2 separate regions of the Homo sapiens genome follow, and region 1 is linked to region 2. The links come from fine-mapping of genetic effects on gene expression. A gene starts in region 2. The other region holds a variant in brackets. All regions are shown on one strand. Distances are from middle to middle. Region 1 has its middle 29 kb from the start of LMO4. Region 2 holds the start of LMO4 (LIM domain only 4).

Evidence for each region. PIP is the estimated chance that this variant, and not a neighbour inherited with it, causes the effect.
Region 1: its variant is the best candidate, but not a certain one, in a credible set for the expression of LMO4 in whole blood (TOPMed, PIP 0.62).

What each region holds. Positions count from the first base shown.
Region 1 is chr1:87,296,919-87,302,291 of GRCh38, forward strand. No RefSeq gene overlaps it. Among named protein-coding and RNA genes, the nearest start is that of LMO4, 29 kb to the right of the region's middle. The variant T/A (reference allele first, on the strand shown) is at 2,316.
Region 2 is chr1:87,326,278-87,331,650 of GRCh38, forward strand. LMO4 (LIM domain only 4) reads left to right here and starts at 2,603. Exons shown (of 5, transcript NM_006769.4): 1 at 2,603-2,967. RefSeq lists silencers at 1,805-1,974, 2,225-2,654, 3,578-3,667, 5,034-5,373 and enhancers at 2,513-3,090, 3,091-3,666, 3,232-4,777, 4,447-5,085, 5,086-5,373.

The DNA.
Region 1 (5,373 bases), 29 kb before region 2:
CCCACCGTGAGAACTTCAGCCACAGAAGATTTGCACCCCTTCTCTTCTCTAAACCCACCCTGTACTTTCCCACCATGGGCCCTTGGCTACCTCTGTTCTCTTGGGCTGTGTAGGTCTCTTGGGTTCTGAAGGCAGATAGACTTGGGTTTGGCTCTTGCCCAGGCTGGTCCTCAGCTATCCCCATTTGCAAAGTGGGGCAAATTCCCTCTTCACAGTGCTATGTTGGTTTTCTGGTGTGATACACATCAAAAGCTGGTTACGTATTAAGTACTCAGAGAGTGGCAAGGTGTATTAGTCTGTTCTCATGCTGCTAAAAAGACATACCCGAGAATGGGTAATTTATAAAGGAAAGAGTTTTAATGGACTCATAGTTCCACATGACTGGGGAGGCCTCACAATCTTGGTGGAAGATGAAGGAAGAGCAAAGGGATGTCTTACATGGCAGCAGGCAAGACAGAGCATGTGCAGGGGAACTCCTGTTTATAAAACCATCAGATCTTGGCTGAGACGGTGGCTGTAATCCCAGCACTTTCGGAGACTGAGGTGGGTGGATTGCTTGAGGTCAGGAGTTTGAGAACAGCCTGGCCAACATGGCAAAACCCTGCCTCTACTAAAAACACAAAAATTATCTGGGCATGGTGGTGGATGCCTGTAGTCCCAGCTACTTGGGAGTCTGAGGCACAAGAATCACTAGAACTCAGGAAGTGGAGGTTGCAGTGAGCCAAGATCATGCCACTGCACTCCACTCTGGGCGACAGAGTGAGACTCTATCTCAAAAAAATAAAATAAAATAAAATAATCAGATCTTGTAAGACTTATTCACTATCATGAGAACAGCATGGGAAAGACCTGCCCCCATGATTCAATTACCTCCCACTGGGTCCATCCCATGACATGTGGGAGTTATGGGAGCTATAATTCAAGATGAGATTTGGATGGGGACACAGCCAAACCATATCACAAGGCTTCTGCATTTTTTATTTTGAAAGCCCAGTTCAGGTCCCTTCCTCTGCAAATTCCTTCTGTGGACAGTATAATCAGCCAACCTCTGAGCCCCCACAGTCCTCTGTGTATATCTCTATTTAGCACTAATCACCGCTTGCTTTGTATCATGGTTACTTCTGTGTGTGTCTGTCTCTCCCACTAGACTCTAAGGTTTTTAGGGTCAGAGACCATGTCTTATTCATGTCCACATCTCCAGATGCAAGACCAGGACCTTACGCATTCAAGCTCTTAAAAATTTTTTGGTGAATTGAATTGAAAAACAGTGTGTTGGAATTGTGGGCTCCATTAATTATGTGCTACACGCTCCAAGTAGATCTCTCAGGAAGTCTGGGGGTCACTCCCACTCTGGCATTTAGAAACAGAGCCAGGCCACCTCCTATGTCATCTGTTCCTATTCTCTATTTCCTACTGCTCAAGCCACCAACAGCCTTCCTGACTGAAGCTTTCTTTTCTCGGTGTGTTTCAATTGCTGCAACGTGACCTGAGAAGTCCCTGGGGTGGGTCATGTGAGTTTCGTGAGTGATTGGAGTAGCCTTCTGCTATGATCTGAGTGTTTGGGTCTCCCCAAAATTCATACATTGAAACATAATTCTCAATGTGATGGTATTAGGAGTTGGGGCTTTGGGGGATGATTGGGTCATGAGGACAGAGCCTTGTGAATGGGATCAGTGCCCTTATAAAAGAGGCTCTAGAGAACTCCCCTGATGCTTCTACCACACGAGGACACATCTAGAGCCAGGCCCTCACCAGACACTGAATCTGTAGGTGCATTGATCTTGGACTTCCCAGTCTCCAGAACAGTGAGAAATAAATTCCTGTTGTTTATAAGACACTAATGTATGGTATTTTGTTACAGCAACTCAATGAGACTAAGACACCCTCTGTCATTGATTGGATTGGTGGCAGATGTAGCAGACTTGCTCCTCTCCCAAGTCTCCTTCAAATGACCTTTCCTGAGGCCAAAAATTCTGACCTGCAATTTTGAATTAAAAGCATTGTTTTCCAAAGTGTTCTAAACAAATGGGGGCATGGGATACGCTATCAAAGGCTCTATACCTGATGCTTACACCCGTGGCATAACTTGTTGGCAGCTTCATAGCAGAGAACAAGGCCCAGAAGGATGGGGACCTGGAGCTAGCATCCTCTGACCTGGGGTCTAGGTGTTGGGGGTGAGTGAAGAGAGGATTGTGTCAGCAAAGATGGCCGGGACATGGATAAGGCGGATGAAGCTGAGACTCCTAGGCAGGGCATAGGGAATGGAAGACAGAGAAGATGGGTGGTGAGGAAGAACGTCCCTGGGAGCCCTCTGC[T/A]TCCTTATTGTGCCGAGAGTAAACTTGGCTGAGGCCCCTCCTGGATTTCCAGCTGGTGGCTGAAGGTCACCCTGCAAAAGAAGGCACTTAATTCCCAAGTTGCTCCATTAAGGAGCAAAGAGGGAGAGAGGCAGTATACTCTGGCCATTAAAAGCTCTGACTCTGGGGCCTCACAGACTCAGGTTTTCATTCTGGATCTGCTAGGAACTAGCTCGGTGACTTAGGACAGTTACTTAACTCCTCTGTTCCTCACTTTCCTCATCTATAAAATGGGGACATACATAATGCCTCAGGAGGTTCCAAGGAGGATTAAACTTGGCTGAGATCTTCCATGGTAAGCACTCAATAAAAGGCAGCTAGTCTTACTAAAGGAGGCAGCTCCTGCTACTCTCACCATCTGTGCCTGTGTTCCACTGCAGACAGGACCAGACCAGCCAGAGAGGCAGTGATGGCAGCAGGCAAGCTAAAACTCGGGCCTACAGAATTCTCCAATGTTAGTCCCAGAAGGATTGGATTCAAAGTGTTATCTGATTCAGGCTTCCCTTTCAAGAGCAGAAAATAGGCCTAAAAAGGTCATATAGCTAACAGGAGGAAATAGGCCTAGGCAGATCATGTGGCTTGACATAGCCATATAGAGATGGCCACATAGCTGAGGAAGTCACAGGCAAGGCACTGGGAGCAGCAGGCTTTGTGGGCCATTTCCAAACCCATAGTAATCATCATCCTCAGAATAAAAGCCTCAAAATTCTATGCCCCATAGAAGGAGGTGGCTTTCAGATGGCAGATTGCTTGCAGGTTGGCTCTTTTAGGTGAGGATAATTCCTAGGCACTTACTCAGTGAACCTGGTCCATTTTTCTTCTTTCCAATCCTCTTCTCCTTATGGGGATGTTTTCATTGTTTTCTTTTCAGGCTGGGCTTAGCCCTGGCCTCTCCAGGCTTGTGGGTTTTCCCTTCCCCCGTCCTCCTCTGCCCTCCCTGGTTTCTACCAGGAATAGGCAGTGATTGAAATTATTGATTCAATCAGTTCATCCTCCTGCCGAGATGCATCTTGGCTGGATCACTAATTCCGGGGCCAAGCCTTAGCACAGTCCACTGGCTTCCCCTGCTCAGCGCCAGGGGCAATTGGAGCTGCAGAACCTCCTGGGGTATCATCAATGAAGCCTGGAGGATTTGACTGGTAATGGGCTCCTGGTTCTGAATCTGGCGCTGCAACTGAATCCGGGGAAACAGAGACACGTCCAGCTTCTCTGAAAGCCCACCAGCTTGGTCCATTGCAAACGAGGCTGACTTTCAAGTTCCTAGTTACAGTTCCCACTCACTGTTACAAGAAATCTCTCTGAGGATATTCTTTCCTATAGCATGGAATAATTTGGAATCACAAGAATGAAGACATTGCTGTTTCTCAAGTGATAATAAAAGCATCATCGTGGGGGCAATTTTGGCGGCCAAGTGACTGGACTTACTATAAATGCCTTCCTATTTTACTAGGTCTCTTCAGTTTCCTTGCCCGCCCTCATTTATTTTACAGGGATTCTGTGTAGCTGAAGTAATGTGCATGAATATTGCGTAACATTTTGTGGACGGATACAATATTGTAGAAATAATTTAATTGACGACCTGTAATGAAAAGAGCGCTGGGTAAGTAGCCTGGGTTGCAGTTTCTCTCTATATTTTTACATCACCAGGGATAGTGCTGTTGACATGAATAGGCCAGTATTGATTTCATTTAAAATTTTCAACATCTGAATGATGTGAGCAGTGATCTGTGGGAAGATACTGTGGAGTTGTCGGCATAGCCCCTGCTAACAAAATACCATTTAAAAAGGATTTTTCTATTAGCATTCACAAAGAGAAGAGAGAATAAAAAGGGTTATGAGAATGTTAAAATTTTCACTGACCAAAGAAATATGAAGTCACCATCTTCATTTTACTCTTAATTAATTCAGTTATTGGACCTTATATAAGCCTCTGTTAAATTCCTAAAAGAAAGCAGGCTGGGGCCTTGAGGTGGTTATATAGAATACTTTGTTTTCTAAAGGGAGTGACTTCAATCACCCCATGAGAAAGTCCCTGAAGGCAATCAGACTCCCCCAAGAAATGGATTTCAAATGCGGCAGCAACTCCTTAATGCTGCCCTGCTAATGAGTTCCAATTCAGTGGTTATGAGTTACCATCATTGAACAACAGTAGCACGAATTAGATTTTCAAACTTTCAGAGATGCAGTTTCTCAGGACCCCTGAGTCTACCAGTCAGATCATAGAAGGTTGAGAGGAGATAGATGCTGGGCAGGTGGCCCAAGGAGTGATTTTTAAAAGGCAATCCTGTGGTAAACTGGGGACACTGATTGGGTTCCATTTCTGGGTAGTGGGGGTTTGAGGTTCTCAGTTTGCCCAAGAGATAGGTTTGTTGTGAAATTATGGACCAAGGCAGAGGTTGCAGTGACCTGAGATTGCGCCACAGCACTCCAGCCTGGCGACAGAGCAAGACTCCATCTCAAAAAAAAAAAAAAGTATGGACCAAGTGGAAGTCGGCAGCTCCTGTCTTCATCCTTTTGTTGGCCTGGAGGTCAAGGAGAGGTAGAGGGACAATGCTGGCTGTGAAGTGCCTGGAGTGGCAAAAAGCCACCTCTTGAGCTTCTTCAGCCTTCCTGTCTTTCTAATGATGAGCTTCAGCTCAGGTATGGCAAAGACATTTGAAGAGAAAACTCAGGGAAGGAGCTTTCCAGAATCACTGGTAATGAGTCTGATAGAAGAGCTATCTGAATGCAGTGCTGCCCCGGCTGTGGATTCTTCCAGAAAGCTGGCCTCAGTTGGGCTGCTTTGGGCTATAGGACTCCGCTGCCTGCCTTGCCAAGCAGAGTGGGTATCTTCAACCTTGGATGAGGAGGCCCATGAAGGAGACCTGGACCAGTGTACACCGGGAGATGAAAGGGGCCTTGCTGGATGTTGTCCTGAGGGGAATGTACTAACCCTGGCTTCAGTTGTGGCAGCAACACAGAGGGAAGGGGCATGGGAGGGATAAAGATGAAAAGGAAGGCGAAGCATGAATACTAGTCT
Region 2 (5,373 bases):
AATAAAGCTCTCTGGTAATACACTCCCATCCACTCCAATCTACCAGGACATGTTTAAAGACCTCACTCCGCACAGAATTAGAGCTGAAGCACTAAAACCACCTCCTAAAATGTAGGCCCTGTAGCCTAGAGCTCTGTTATTCAAAGTTTTATCCATCTCACTCTCCTTCCTTCCACAAACACCACCGGGATCCTCTGGATAATCACTCAATGATAGCTGAACATGTGTCTGGTTAAATTTCTAACATTTCCTTCAGGAATTAAGATTTCGTTTTAGTGCATATTCTTCAGGAAAAATCCTGAAAAGTACCACAATTCGTTATACATCTATGCATTATGTGCTCTATCTAAGAAAATCATTTTTAAAAAGAAAAAATAAAGACCATTTGGCTTAATTCTCTCATTTGTGGATGAGAAAATTAAGGCCCAGAGACGGAAATTTACTTGCACATGACAAATCATAACTTAATTGTAGCCCACTAAGATCTTGTGTCATCTCCTTTTATTATAAATTATTTAAAAAGTGAAAATGAACCAGGGGATTCAAATGTATTATTTGTTTATGGTGTTCCTCTCCTCATCTGGTTTAATTGAGTTTTCTTGACTAACCTTCAAGCAGCATTACATCTTTTCTAAGTTGGTCCTCTTTAATCATGCCCATCTGTAGCTGTTTTCTGTGTAGGACATTTTAATTACTATTATAGTTTTAATGACTTTTTTTTAAAAAAAGTTTTTTATATGTGCACAAGGTGAATTCATCATAGCAGTGCAACTTTAAATACAAATCAATAAAATTAATTCATTTAATTTTAAGGTGCTAGAATTAAAAAATGAGTATTTGAATTGATATTTAAAATGCCCTCTACCTGACTGTATGGGCAATAATTATTCTTTCTTATGCAGCCTTATTAATTTTGATGGTTTGAAAGACAGAAATCCCCCAAATAGACACTAAAACCCTAAATGTTCAACATCTGCATTGTCTCGCCAGATTCTCCTTCAGGTTCCTTTCCTCAATCTAGCAGTACTGTGTGTAACACAATATGAAAACTTGCCCCACAAGGCTGGTTTTACTTAATGATACTTAGCAGAAGGGCTTTGCACTTTCATGATAATTTCCACCAGAAAAATCTCTCTGGAACTTACTAACAATAATCAGGCCTAATATTAGCCTCAGTCTGGAGATTTATTTAACCTATTTGGCAGAGTAGATAAAGTCGAATGCCTAGGTATTCAAGCATCTAGGCTGTGCTTCGGCCTTGGAAAAAGACTCTCAGGCTAGCACCCTAAAAGCATTCCTCAAAACTTGATTTATACTAGAAGTGACATTTCTTACTCTCTAGAGGCTGTGAGATTGCAAATCTTGCAATTACTTCCATTGCTTTTGGGGGCTGTGAGAATTTCCGCCTCTCATCCTCCACAGTGAGGAGGGTAGTCGGGAAAGGCTTTCTCCCTTAAGTTTTCGTCAACTTTGAAAATAAGGACTGTGCTCCCTACATCACCAGCAATTGACAAGGATCCAGGAAATGCCTGCTAGGCACTTTCAAACTCGGAAAAATGGGAGTATGAGGGAGGCTAAGTAGGCAGTATTTAGCTAGCAACTATTATTTCCTTTATGTTTCTACCTTGTTAACTAAGCTTCCACTACGGTTCATAAATCTCCAATATCGTGAATTAAAGAAACAACAACAAAAATCCTCTTCTGTGTGCTTGTGCGTGAGGGGATAGAAGTCCACTGCCCTAAGATGCAGGACTTATCTTCCCAAACAGGAAGAGACCCATTTCTGAGAAAGATGGTAAGTTTCCTAAGGGTCTCCTCTCAGATAGAGGGGATGGCAGTCCCCGAGGGGCGAGCGGGCGCGGGTCCTCAGGGTCCCCGTGCGCTGAGAAGGCAGGTGAGGCCCCGCCCTGCGTCTCGACTCCGGATCCCGGGTCGCGAAGGGCAGCCCAAGCGGGTCCCCGGCCCCAGGCGCCCGGGTCACTTCACCCCACCTGATTCGGGCCCTTCCCTTCTCCTCTGTCGGCCAGCTCTGCCGCCTCGCTCTCTCTCCCGCCCCCCGAGTCTCGTTTCAGTCATCCCTTTGTCCTTCCCCGGATTGGCAGGTTTTATTATTCCGCCTGAACAATCCGGCCGCCCAGTGGCTGAGGGTCGCTGACGTCGGAGGCAGAGCCGGGGAGTAGTTGGGATTTTGCTCTGTCAGTAACACATGTGTAAGAGCCGCGGAGGGAGCGAGCGAGCCGGCTAGAGGCCAGCGCCGCCGCCGCCGCCGCCTCCGAGCCGGGCAGCAACAGCCCCGGCAGCGGCGCAGGCTCCAGCGCGCCGGGCCCGGCCGGCCGCAGCCCCCGACGCCTGGGTGCGCCTGCCTGCCGGCCTCCGCACCGTCCGCCGCCGCTCCCGGGGCTGTTGTGTCTGCGACTGCTCCCGGCCGGAGGTGCAGGGAGCTCAGCCGAGCCGCCGCTGCCATCCCGGAGCGAGCAAGCGAGCGAGCGCGCGGGAGGGAGGAAGGCGGCGGCGGAGGAGGAGGAGGAGCGGGAGGAGCGCGGGCGGGGGCGGGGGCCCCCGGGCGGGGGAATATACAAAGTGAAGCCACATTGCCAAACTTGCAGCAGCGATTGCAGCAGTTGCTGCCGCTGCGCCGCGCCTGAAGCCGCGCCGCGCGGGCCGAGGGCTCCTGCAGCTGCTCGCGCGCAGTCGGAGGCGGAGAAGGACGAAGACTGAGACTGACACTTCTGCTCCCGGCCGCCCGGCACTTACGCGGGGGCCCCCCAACCCGCCCCAGAGCAACGCGATTTAAAAAAAAAAAAAAAGCCGCCCTTAGCCCCCTCCTCCCCTTTCCTGCTTCTGCGAGAACTCCCTCCCTCCCTCCAGCTCCGCCAGCCCAGGCGCCCCTTCCCTGGAAGCCGAGCGGCTTCGCTCGCATTTCACCGCCGCCGCCTCTCGCAATATTGCAATATAGGGGAAAAGCAGGTAAGGGGGCGGGTGGAGAGCCGCGGGCCGGGAGGTGGGAGAGGGAGGGAGGGGGTCGATTCGGGCCAGGGCTGTTTTCTTTGGCTTCCTTCCCCTGACCGTCCCAAATTGCAAGTAAACAATACGTCGGCTTAGATAAAGCGCGAGTCTGAAACTACCGAGGCCGGCCTGCGAGCTAGCGCGGAGGGCAGCCCCGGGCCGCCAGCTTTGTAGCGGTTCCTGCTTACAAAAGGGCTCTTCTTGGAAACGGGGCTGGTGGGGACCGTAGAGGGGGTGGGGATATTTCTAGTTCATAAGGGAAAGGCAAGGGGTGCTTAGATGAGGATTTTAAGTATGAGAAGTAGTGTGTTTGGGGGGGTGGGGGTGGGGATAGTCACGATACCCCCCCTCCCTTCTAGTAAACACTATTTTTGAAACAGTGGCAGGAAGGATCTAAGTGAGCAGGATTCGGTATTGCTGGTTCTTTTAAAAAAATTCTTCTTGGCTTATAAGTCTTTTGTTCCAATCCAGGAGAAATACGGTGAATCACCTAATTAAAATCAAGACATGAATTAAGCATCCATTTTTGTACTACAAATTGCCAGCGTTACGTTTGTCCCTCCCTTGGTCTCCATTAAAAAACACCAGAGACGTTGTTAAAGGGGGGCAGATTTTGCCTCTAGCTGCCAGTTCTGCTTTCTATTTCACTGACTATCCCAGGACCTAAATTGCTTGGCTATGTAATTACTAGAGTATAAGCCTATTTAACTTAAAAGCTTTCTTTTTTTTTTTTTTTTTTCCAACTCTAAATGAAACTTGATGAGGGCCCGTCCTTAGTTATCAGGGGAGTCAGTTTCTGGTCAGTCTTCTTGATTCATCTCTTTTAGATTTAATCAGCATTAAGGTATTGCTTGTCCTTAAGAGCTTTAGCTAATGGGGTTACTGGATGCTTTTCTCAGTGTAATGTTTCCTTTTCAAAAAAAAAATACATATATATTTACCTCTCACTAAAGATGGGGGCGGGGAAGAGCTTGGAATCTCCTCCCTCACTCTCCTTTTAAAAAGGAATTCGGAGCGATTAAAACGTTGGGGGAAACAGTTTAAAGATCTAGGGCAGGAAATGCAGATTCATTTGGGTTAGGGCTGAAATTGTAACAAAAAGCAATTCCTCGAGTAAATGCATCAGATAAATCAATTTACATAAAGGTATGATGCATTCGGATAAATGCAATGCTAATGGGTTTTAGAGTGGTCCTGTTTCCAAAGTCTCAGGGTTTTGTTACAGCTTAATTGGTGCAGTTCTTATTCTGGTTTATTGTGCGGTCACTGGACACACGTTCCGGGACTCTTTCGGAGGAAATGTGTTTAAAATCGGCCTATTTAAGGAACCCGAGTCCTTGTTTCGTTCCTTCCTCGTTTTTTTTGCAGCAGCCAAGTTGGGCCGGGTACAGGCAAAGTTCGCCTTCTTCTGAGGTATCAGCTGAATGTCTTGAGCAGATAGCCGGGAGCCTCAGGGGGAGCCCACACTCTCAGCTTACAGAGGACAAAGACAATACAGGCTGCTTAATTGGCAGTAAATAACTTGATCTTTTTACAGAATAAGTGACTAGAGGAACACTAGGACTTTATTGGACTCGGGATTGAAGGCAACAAATTAATCGGTTTAGGCTAAGCTTTATAAATTGATTCCTATATTATATCCCAGTTGCATCTCTTGTGGCATTCATTAGAGTGGGGAATTCTTTTTTAAAGCAGTTTTTGGTGACAGCAGGACGGGCTCGAATTTAACTTGTGCATCCCTTAATGGTGCCTTCTCGCACATTATCTGTAACGCCGCCCGCCCCCCCCCCCCCCCCGCCCTTTGGAGGAACAAAGCTTTAGCATTTAAATTGCTGATCAAGGGCAGATTAGTGAGACCAAAGTGGAGAGTGTTTGTATAGGAAGTTAACAGGCATCCTAAAGTTCAATGATCTATTATTCTTGCCTGTGTCCTGAAAACCCAGAGAAAACACTCATTGATCTTCAAAATGAAATGAGATTTGGAACAATAATGGGAGATGGCGGTCACCACAATGGCATGTGAAAGGTGCTGCTTAAAATACGAAAAACCAGTTTCGCAACTTTACACACTGCACCCACCCCTCCCGTCACCTTGCCTTCCCTCCCATCACCACGCTCTCCGTCTCCCGTCTGCCGGTCCCTCCCTCGTTCCCTTTCGGAAAACCGAACTATTTCCAACTTGTGAACTGCAGCTGCACTTCCCGGGGCAGAACCCGGGAGGGAACGAGGCTCCGGCGGGGCCGCCGCCTCCCCACTCCTCTCGGCTCTGTCCCGGGGCCCGGCGGGGGCTGGGGAGGGGCCGGGCGCGGCGGTGGGTGGGTTTGACCCTCATTTGCTGGAGGCGGGCGGCGGAGGAGGGGAGGAGGG